Linked DNA regions of Homo sapiens: region 2 is reported to be linked to region 1. The links are microRNA targets in miRTarBase. Many come from high-throughput screens and were not tested one by one. Region 1 holds a microRNA gene; the other region holds the end of a gene's coding sequence.

Evidence for each region. The annotated mature microRNA hsa-miR-937-3p reads AUCCGCGCUCUGACUCUCUGCC and lies in region 1 at 2,179-2,200, shown strand. An mRNA with a match to its seed (bases 2 to 7 or 8) in the 3' UTR can be bound and repressed. Matches are read on the target gene's strand: a 7mer-m8 pairs with bases 2 to 8, a 7mer-A1 pairs with bases 2 to 7 and ends in A, and an 8mer does both.
Region 2: miRTarBase lists FOXQ1 as a target of hsa-miR-937-3p. Seed matches in the 3' UTR shown: 7mer-m8 at 543-549.

What each region holds. Positions count from the first base shown.
Region 1 is chr8:143,812,171-143,815,170 of GRCh38, reverse strand. MIR937 (microRNA 937) reads left to right here and starts at 2,129; the gene lies at 2,129-2,214. SCRIB (scribble planar cell polarity protein) reads left to right here. Exons shown (of 37, transcript NM_182706.5): 2 at 1,053-1,170; 3 at 1,275-1,353; 4 at 1,445-1,534; 5 at 1,645-1,701; 6 at 1,797-1,860; 7 at 2,067-2,141; 8 at 2,210-2,354; 9 at 2,787-2,905. RefSeq lists enhancers at 1-71, 356-1,020.
Region 2 is chr6:1,313,439-1,316,945 of GRCh38, forward strand. It overlaps FOXQ1 (forkhead box Q1), which reads left to right. Exons shown (of 1, transcript NM_033260.4): 1 at 1-1,320. The coding sequence ends at 478. Among named protein-coding and RNA genes, the nearest start is that of FOXQ1, 3.1 kb to the left of the region's middle.

The sequences.
Region 1 (3,000 bases):
CCCGTGATTCCTCCGGCGGCAGAATCTGCCCGGGCGAGTCACCGCAGCCTCCAGCCGGCCCTGCTGGTTTGCACTGGCCAGGTCCCCACCCCAGCCAGCCCCACCCTTCTCTTCCAGCCGCCCTGGCTGGCGCAGGTGGCAGCGGTCATCAGGTGCTTGCCTGGGGATAGCGATTGTCACCGAGCCTGGAGGCGGAGCCTCAGAGTGAAACCCGTGGGGATTCAGGGAGGTGGATGGGGTTAGGGTGGAACTTGGATTCAGGTGGCTGATGAGTACTAGCTTCTTGGGCCGCTCTGGAGGTGGGTCCAGACCTCCTCTCCTTTTTTGCTGGGTGCAGGGGTGAGTGGGGGAGCCCTCTTGATGTACTCTTTGCTCTCGGATCTGTTCGCTGTCCCCCTTTCTTTACCCTTGCTTCTCGTGGTCAGGTGCTCTCCTAAGGCTGCTACAAGAAAGGAGGCTGGAGAAAGCAGATTAAAAAGTATTTCTTTTCTGGAGATGGGGTGCTGGGTGATCAGTACCTAGGGGTTGGGTGTCCCAAAGAATGTGACCCTGTTCTGGCCGTGGCAGTGACAGCTCGGTCCTCTGTGGCCACCTGCAGGCCTCGCGCGTAGCACTGTGCCTGTGGTACTGTGTTATTGTGGGGAGCGTTTACTGAGTTCTTGCTGCAGAACCAGGCCAGGCTTGTTGTCAGGATGCAGTAGCAGAGGCCAGTGTGGGCCCCTGGAGGGTGGCAGAAGTGGTTCAGGGGCTGGGTGGGCCCTGAGGTAAGACACAGGGTAGGGGATTGGGGCTTTGTCTGGTCGCCAGCAGGTGTCTTCTCAGAGTGGAGGCTGGTGTGAAGAGTAGAGGGAGGCAGCCACAGTGGGCGTGTGTACCGTGTGTTTCTTTCCTTTTTTTGCAAATGGGGTGTCGTGGTTAGACCCCAGGACCCGGTGTGACCTGGAGCAGACAGAGGCCTAGGGACTCTTGACTTGTGACACTCACGTGTCCAGGAGCTCTTCTCTGCTCTGCAGTGGTCTCTGCCACAGAGTCCGTGTCCTCCCTGCCCACAGCCTTTTTTCCGGCTGCTGAACTTGCGCAAGCTGGGCCTGAGCGACAACGAGATCCAGCGGTTGCCTCCCGAGGTGGCCAACTTCATGCAGCTGGTGGAGCTGGACGTGTCCCGGAACGGTGGGGAGCCTGGGCAGGGGCTGGGTGGGGTCTGGGGAGTGTCCGCTGGGGCTGCAGACGGCCTGCAGGCCATGGCATCTGTCCACTGTGACCCTCTGTGACAGATATCCCTGAGATCCCGGAGAGCATCAAGTTCTGCAAGGCTCTGGAGATCGCGGACTTCAGCGGGAACCCCCTCTCCAGGTGGGTGGCAGCCTGTGGTGGGGTCGGTAGGGGCTATGGGTCCCACAGCCCTGGACTGGTCATCCGAGGGCCTCTGCTTCCTCCCATCCAGGCTCCCTGATGGCTTCACTCAGCTGCGCAGCCTGGCTCACCTGGCCCTGAATGATGTGTCTCTGCAGGCACTGCCCGGGGACGTGGGCAAGTGAGTGCCTTCTCAGGTGGAACTAGGGTGGGGTGGGGGACCAGGATTGGCCCTGCCCCTGCTGCCACTGCTTTCCTTCCTCTTGCCCCAGCGCCTGGTCTCTCTTTCAGCCTCGCCAACCTGGTGACCCTGGAGCTCCGGGAGAACCTGCTCAAGTCCCTGCCAGCGTGAGTGTGACAGGCATTCTCCTAACAGCCAGGGCAGGGCCACAGCCCAGGGACCAGGGCTGCGTGGCCACACCTCCACCCTGCTTCCTCTGCAGGTCCCTGTCATTTCTGGTCAAGCTGGAACAGCTGGATCTGGGAGGCAACGATCTGGAAGTGCTGGTGCGTGGAGGCCTGACAGGGCAGAGACCGGAGGGCGGGCCACGGAAGCAAGGGCAAAGAAGGGGACAGCGAGCAGATCCGACAGCAAGGGGCACCTCGGGAGGGCAGGCGGGTGGGAGCTGGGTGTGGGGGCGTATAGTCTCTTGAGCACGGCGCAGCAGGAGGCTTTGCCTCATAGTCACTATTTTCTCTGTTCCTTCTTGCAGCCAGACACTCTGGGGGCTCTGCCCAATCTTCGGGAGCTGTGGCTTGACCGGAACCAGCTGTCAGCACTGCCCCCGGTGAGTCAGGGTGGGGCTGGCCCCCTGCTTCGTGCCCATCCGCGCTCTGACTCTCTGCCCACCTGCAGGAGCTCGGGAACCTGCGGCGCCTGGTGTGCCTGGACGTGTCGGAAAACCGGCTGGAGGAGCTGCCTGCTGAGCTCGGCGGGCTGGTGCTGCTCACTGACCTGCTGCTGTCCCAGAACCTGCTGCGGAGGCTGCCCGACGGCATCGGTTAGTGTGCCTGGGGGTGCCTGGGTGGGGCACACGGAGCCTGGCCCTGGGAGGAGCGTGGGGCGTCGGGGCTGTGTGTGGTGTGGAACACAGGGGAGGATCCTGAGTGTGCCCAGGCTCTGGGAGCTGTCCCTGGGGAGGGGAGGTGGGACCCTGGGGCAGCCCAGAAGGCTGAGGAGGCAGCTGGTGGTGCTGGAGGGGGCGGTGGAGTCTGTGAGGGCGGAAGGGTGGCAGTGCCACTGGGGCCTGGTGTTTTCTTGAAGGAGGTTGGGTCAGGCTTGTGGGGCAAGGTAGGTAGGGTCCTCCCGAAGTACGGCGGCGGCAGAAGGGGCTGGGGGCCTTGCTGTCTGCCTTGAGGGCGCTTCTGGCCAGGTGGGTAAGGCACGTCTGGGGACCATGCTCAGCCTTGTCCCCCTGTCTCCCCGACGCCAGGTCAGCTGAAGCAGCTATCCATCCTAAAGGTAGACCAGAATCGGCTGTGCGAGGTGACCGAGGCCATCGGGGACTGTGAGAACCTCTCTGAGCTGATCCTCACGGAGAACCTGCTGATGGTAGGGTCTGGCTTGGGAGGCAGAAAGGATGGGGCCGTCGGGGGTGCAGAACAAGGACAGGGCATCAGCCTGTGTCTGCTGCTGGGGGGTGCTGG
Region 2 (3,507 bases), not on the chromosome of region 1:
CCCGGCCTCGCCCCGCATGCGCTCGCCCGCCCGCCAGGAGGAGCGCGCCAGCCCCGCGGGCAAGTTCTCCAGCTCCTTCGCCATCGACAGCATCCTGCGCAAGCCCTTCCGCAGCCGCCGCCTCAGGGACACGGCCCCCGGGACGACGCTTCAGTGGGGCGCCGCGCCCTGCCCGCCGCTGCCCGCGTTCCCCGCGCTCCTCCCCGCGGCGCCCTGCAGGGCCCTGCTGCCGCTCTGCGCGTACGGCGCGGGCGAGCCGGCGCGGCTGGGCGCGCGCGAGGCCGAGGTGCCACCGACCGCGCCGCCCCTCCTGCTTGCACCTCTCCCGGCGGCGGCCCCCGCCAAGCCACTCCGAGGCCCGGCGGCCGGCGGCGCGCACCTGTACTGCCCCCTGCGGCTGCCCGCAGCCCTGCAGGCGGCCTCAGTCCGCCGCCCTGGCCCGCACCTGCCGTACCCGGTGGAGACGCTCCTAGCCTGAGTAGCGCCGCGGGGCCCGGGAACGCCGAGTGCGCGCCGTCGGGGAGGCGGGAACGCGGGCCCGCGCGCGGACTTTGCACTTTGAATCCAGAGGAAGATGAATTTTTAAAATCTCCATCAAACGTGCCTTAAAGCTAAAGCATTTTGACAGGAGTATTTAAACTTAGTCCAGGATATTTTCCTTTGTGTTTTATAACTTTACAGAGGACCAAAGCAATTCTTGTTTTAGTTTCTTTGCGAAGCCTGCTCCTCCTTCCCTTCATAAGGACTTTTTTTGTCTTTCTTTAACGCCCAGGCTTCGTCTTATTTCTACTGTTTTTGTCGCAACTTCCATTGATTTATGTCCCTTCCCTCCCCCCTAAGTACATCAGGGAACCTTTCCACACTATAAATGATATGACTACTGTTTGGGGTTTCTGGGCCCCCATCCGTGTACGTATGTGGCATTTCCAGGTATGACTGAGTGTGAGAGACATGTCAGAGGCTCTTCAGTGATTTCTTGCTATTGACCGATGCTTCACTGTGCCAAAAGAGAAAAAAAATGTTGGGTTTTGTAATTAAATTATTTATATATTTTTGAAACCCGAATTGAAAATGTTGCAGGCAACGGGCTACAGCTTTATTAGTGGTTCTCTAACTGTGGTCTCCTTGGGCCAAGCAATTTCTTTAAAGGAAAAGTTGATTATGTATGTGGGGTGCCAGGACCACTGCCTTGAAAGCAAGTGTGATTTTTATTTTTAATATTATTTTATTTGTGTCTGTGTACATATTCATGTATAAATTTTATGAAACCCAAGCATAGTGCTTATTTTTTAATAAAACAACTGACTTAACACATTGTGATGATGGGTTGGAAGTGGAGAGATTTTTATGTCTGTCCCCCCTCCCAAAAAAATGGGCTCAGGTTTTGGTCTCAAGAAACTTCCTCTGGAGATAAAAATATTTTCCTGAATAATTCGATAAAGGTATTATAGAATGGGCTTGCAGATTTCCGTATGAGATGCATTGCTAGACAGATTTCCAGATAGGACTTCCATTCATGGGCTTTTTAAAAGTTGAAAACCAATTACTCCTCTAATTAGTCACCTAAGTGCTTCCAGAACAAATGAGAGGGAAGTGTCCCTCTCTCCCCCAAGAATCCTTAGCAGGCAAGTTGAGTTCTTAACAAGCCTAGAGTCAAACAGATATTTTCAGGTAAATTGGTTTCGATTTGGGGCTCAAAAAGTTGGAGCCCCAATTTTTTTGACAACTTTTTTGTCATAAGACTATCTTAAAATATCAAAGGTGTCTTCAGGGCAATTTCAAAAGCAATTTAAATGTCATAGTGTTTTTGTCAAAACAAAACCATCCACCTTTTTAGGAATGCAAAAGTTCAACTGGGTGTGAACCAATGGGTAGTATTTTTTTCACTCTTCCCTCATCTGTAAAGATTTCACTTGAAGCAGTGGCAATGTCTTGCATGTTTCAGTTGCAGTCTGAAGAGAAAATGCCTCCTGGAGAGAGGGAGAGACAGTTTCCCATATTATAAATGTAACGGAGGATTTTCATCAGTGGGAGTACCAGGGTGAACACCTGTTCTTCAGTAGGTTCCTAGGCAATACAGTTTTAACAATGCATGGATTGCAAAATTTTAGAGAGTAATACAAACTGTGGGAAATGCAGAGACTAGAAACAGGCCTCATTGCCATGGCTGCCATTCTTGGGTAGATCCCATCTTACCCAGGACAGGAGGATGATTTGAGCTCTACATATAATGAGGTGGGGAAGGAGGGTGGCGTTTATTTCAGGATGCTCTCTTTTGGCAGGAATGGGAGAGAAACAATCTTCCCTAAATCAGGTTAACAGATGATGAGTCTTGACTGATTTGGATGACATCTACTTAGTAATCATAAAGAGTGATAATAATAGGGTTGAATTACGGCAAGAGGTAGACATTTGCACCCACAGGGCCAATAATCCGACCCCAAAATAAACCTGAAACAGACCAGCAACTAGGGGCAGGGGACAACAGGTTCCCTGGGTAGAAATGATCAGACCTCAACATGTTGCTTCCCTCTTCAAAACACATGGAGGAGAGAATGCGGGAGAGCAGGGAGTCAGCCAGCTCTGTCCTTCCCACCTCTGGTTCCAGGGGACCTTGTCTCTCCCACAGTGTGCCTCACCCACAGAGGCAAAGTGCAGCCTACTTGAACATCTTTTTTGTAAAGCCACTGTTTTCTTGTCTGCACTGATACGTGAAGACAGTCCTGCGAAGGGAGATTTAAAGTCGCTTCTGATTTATTCGTGTTAACACACAAACAGCAAAGTGAAAGACAAAGGTAGTGTTCCAAAAATCCCGGCTGTTCCGCCCTCCCCTCAAAAGAAAAAATAAATCCTTCCTTGCTAATGAACACCCTGGAGTCTGGTAGGATGCTGTCCCCTCCTAGCTTCTGGTCCCCTTCTTTGTTTCCCCAGGGACTATAAGCGTTTCTAAAAAATTGTCAGAGTCGCTTGAGTTTTGCACCCCTATTTCATGACCATTTCCAAGCTCAGTATCCCACGACTAGAAGGACATCACACTGGGCGGGCGGGGCGGGGGCATTGGAGGGTCCTGGGCTGTCGCCTCCTCCCTGTCCCTCCTTCACACACCCAGCCCCGGGGAGTTTCGGTTTCTCAGTGCTGGGTCGGAGGCAGCCCAGGAGGAAAGGCGACGGCACAGCTCCCGTTTTCTCAATGAAGGCAGAAAGCTGCACAGCTGCTTTTAGTTCAGGCGAAGCTGGAATTCCGCGGAGCCGCACCTGGCGGCAGGCACGCCGGCCTTCGGAGGGGCCGCTCGGTGCGGCTGCAGGACCCTGCACTCAGGCAGCAGCCTCGCGGTGGCGGTGGGACCTCTCGAGCCCAACAGCTCCTTCCAGCATCTGCCCAGAAAACTGCCTTCCTCGCAGGCGCGGGAGGAGGGTTCGGGGCTCACTGTGCCCAGGCCCCCAGGCCTGGCCGCGCCCAAGTGGCCCCCCGCGCCGAGGGCAGGGCTCGCGCCCCTGCCCCCGTCCA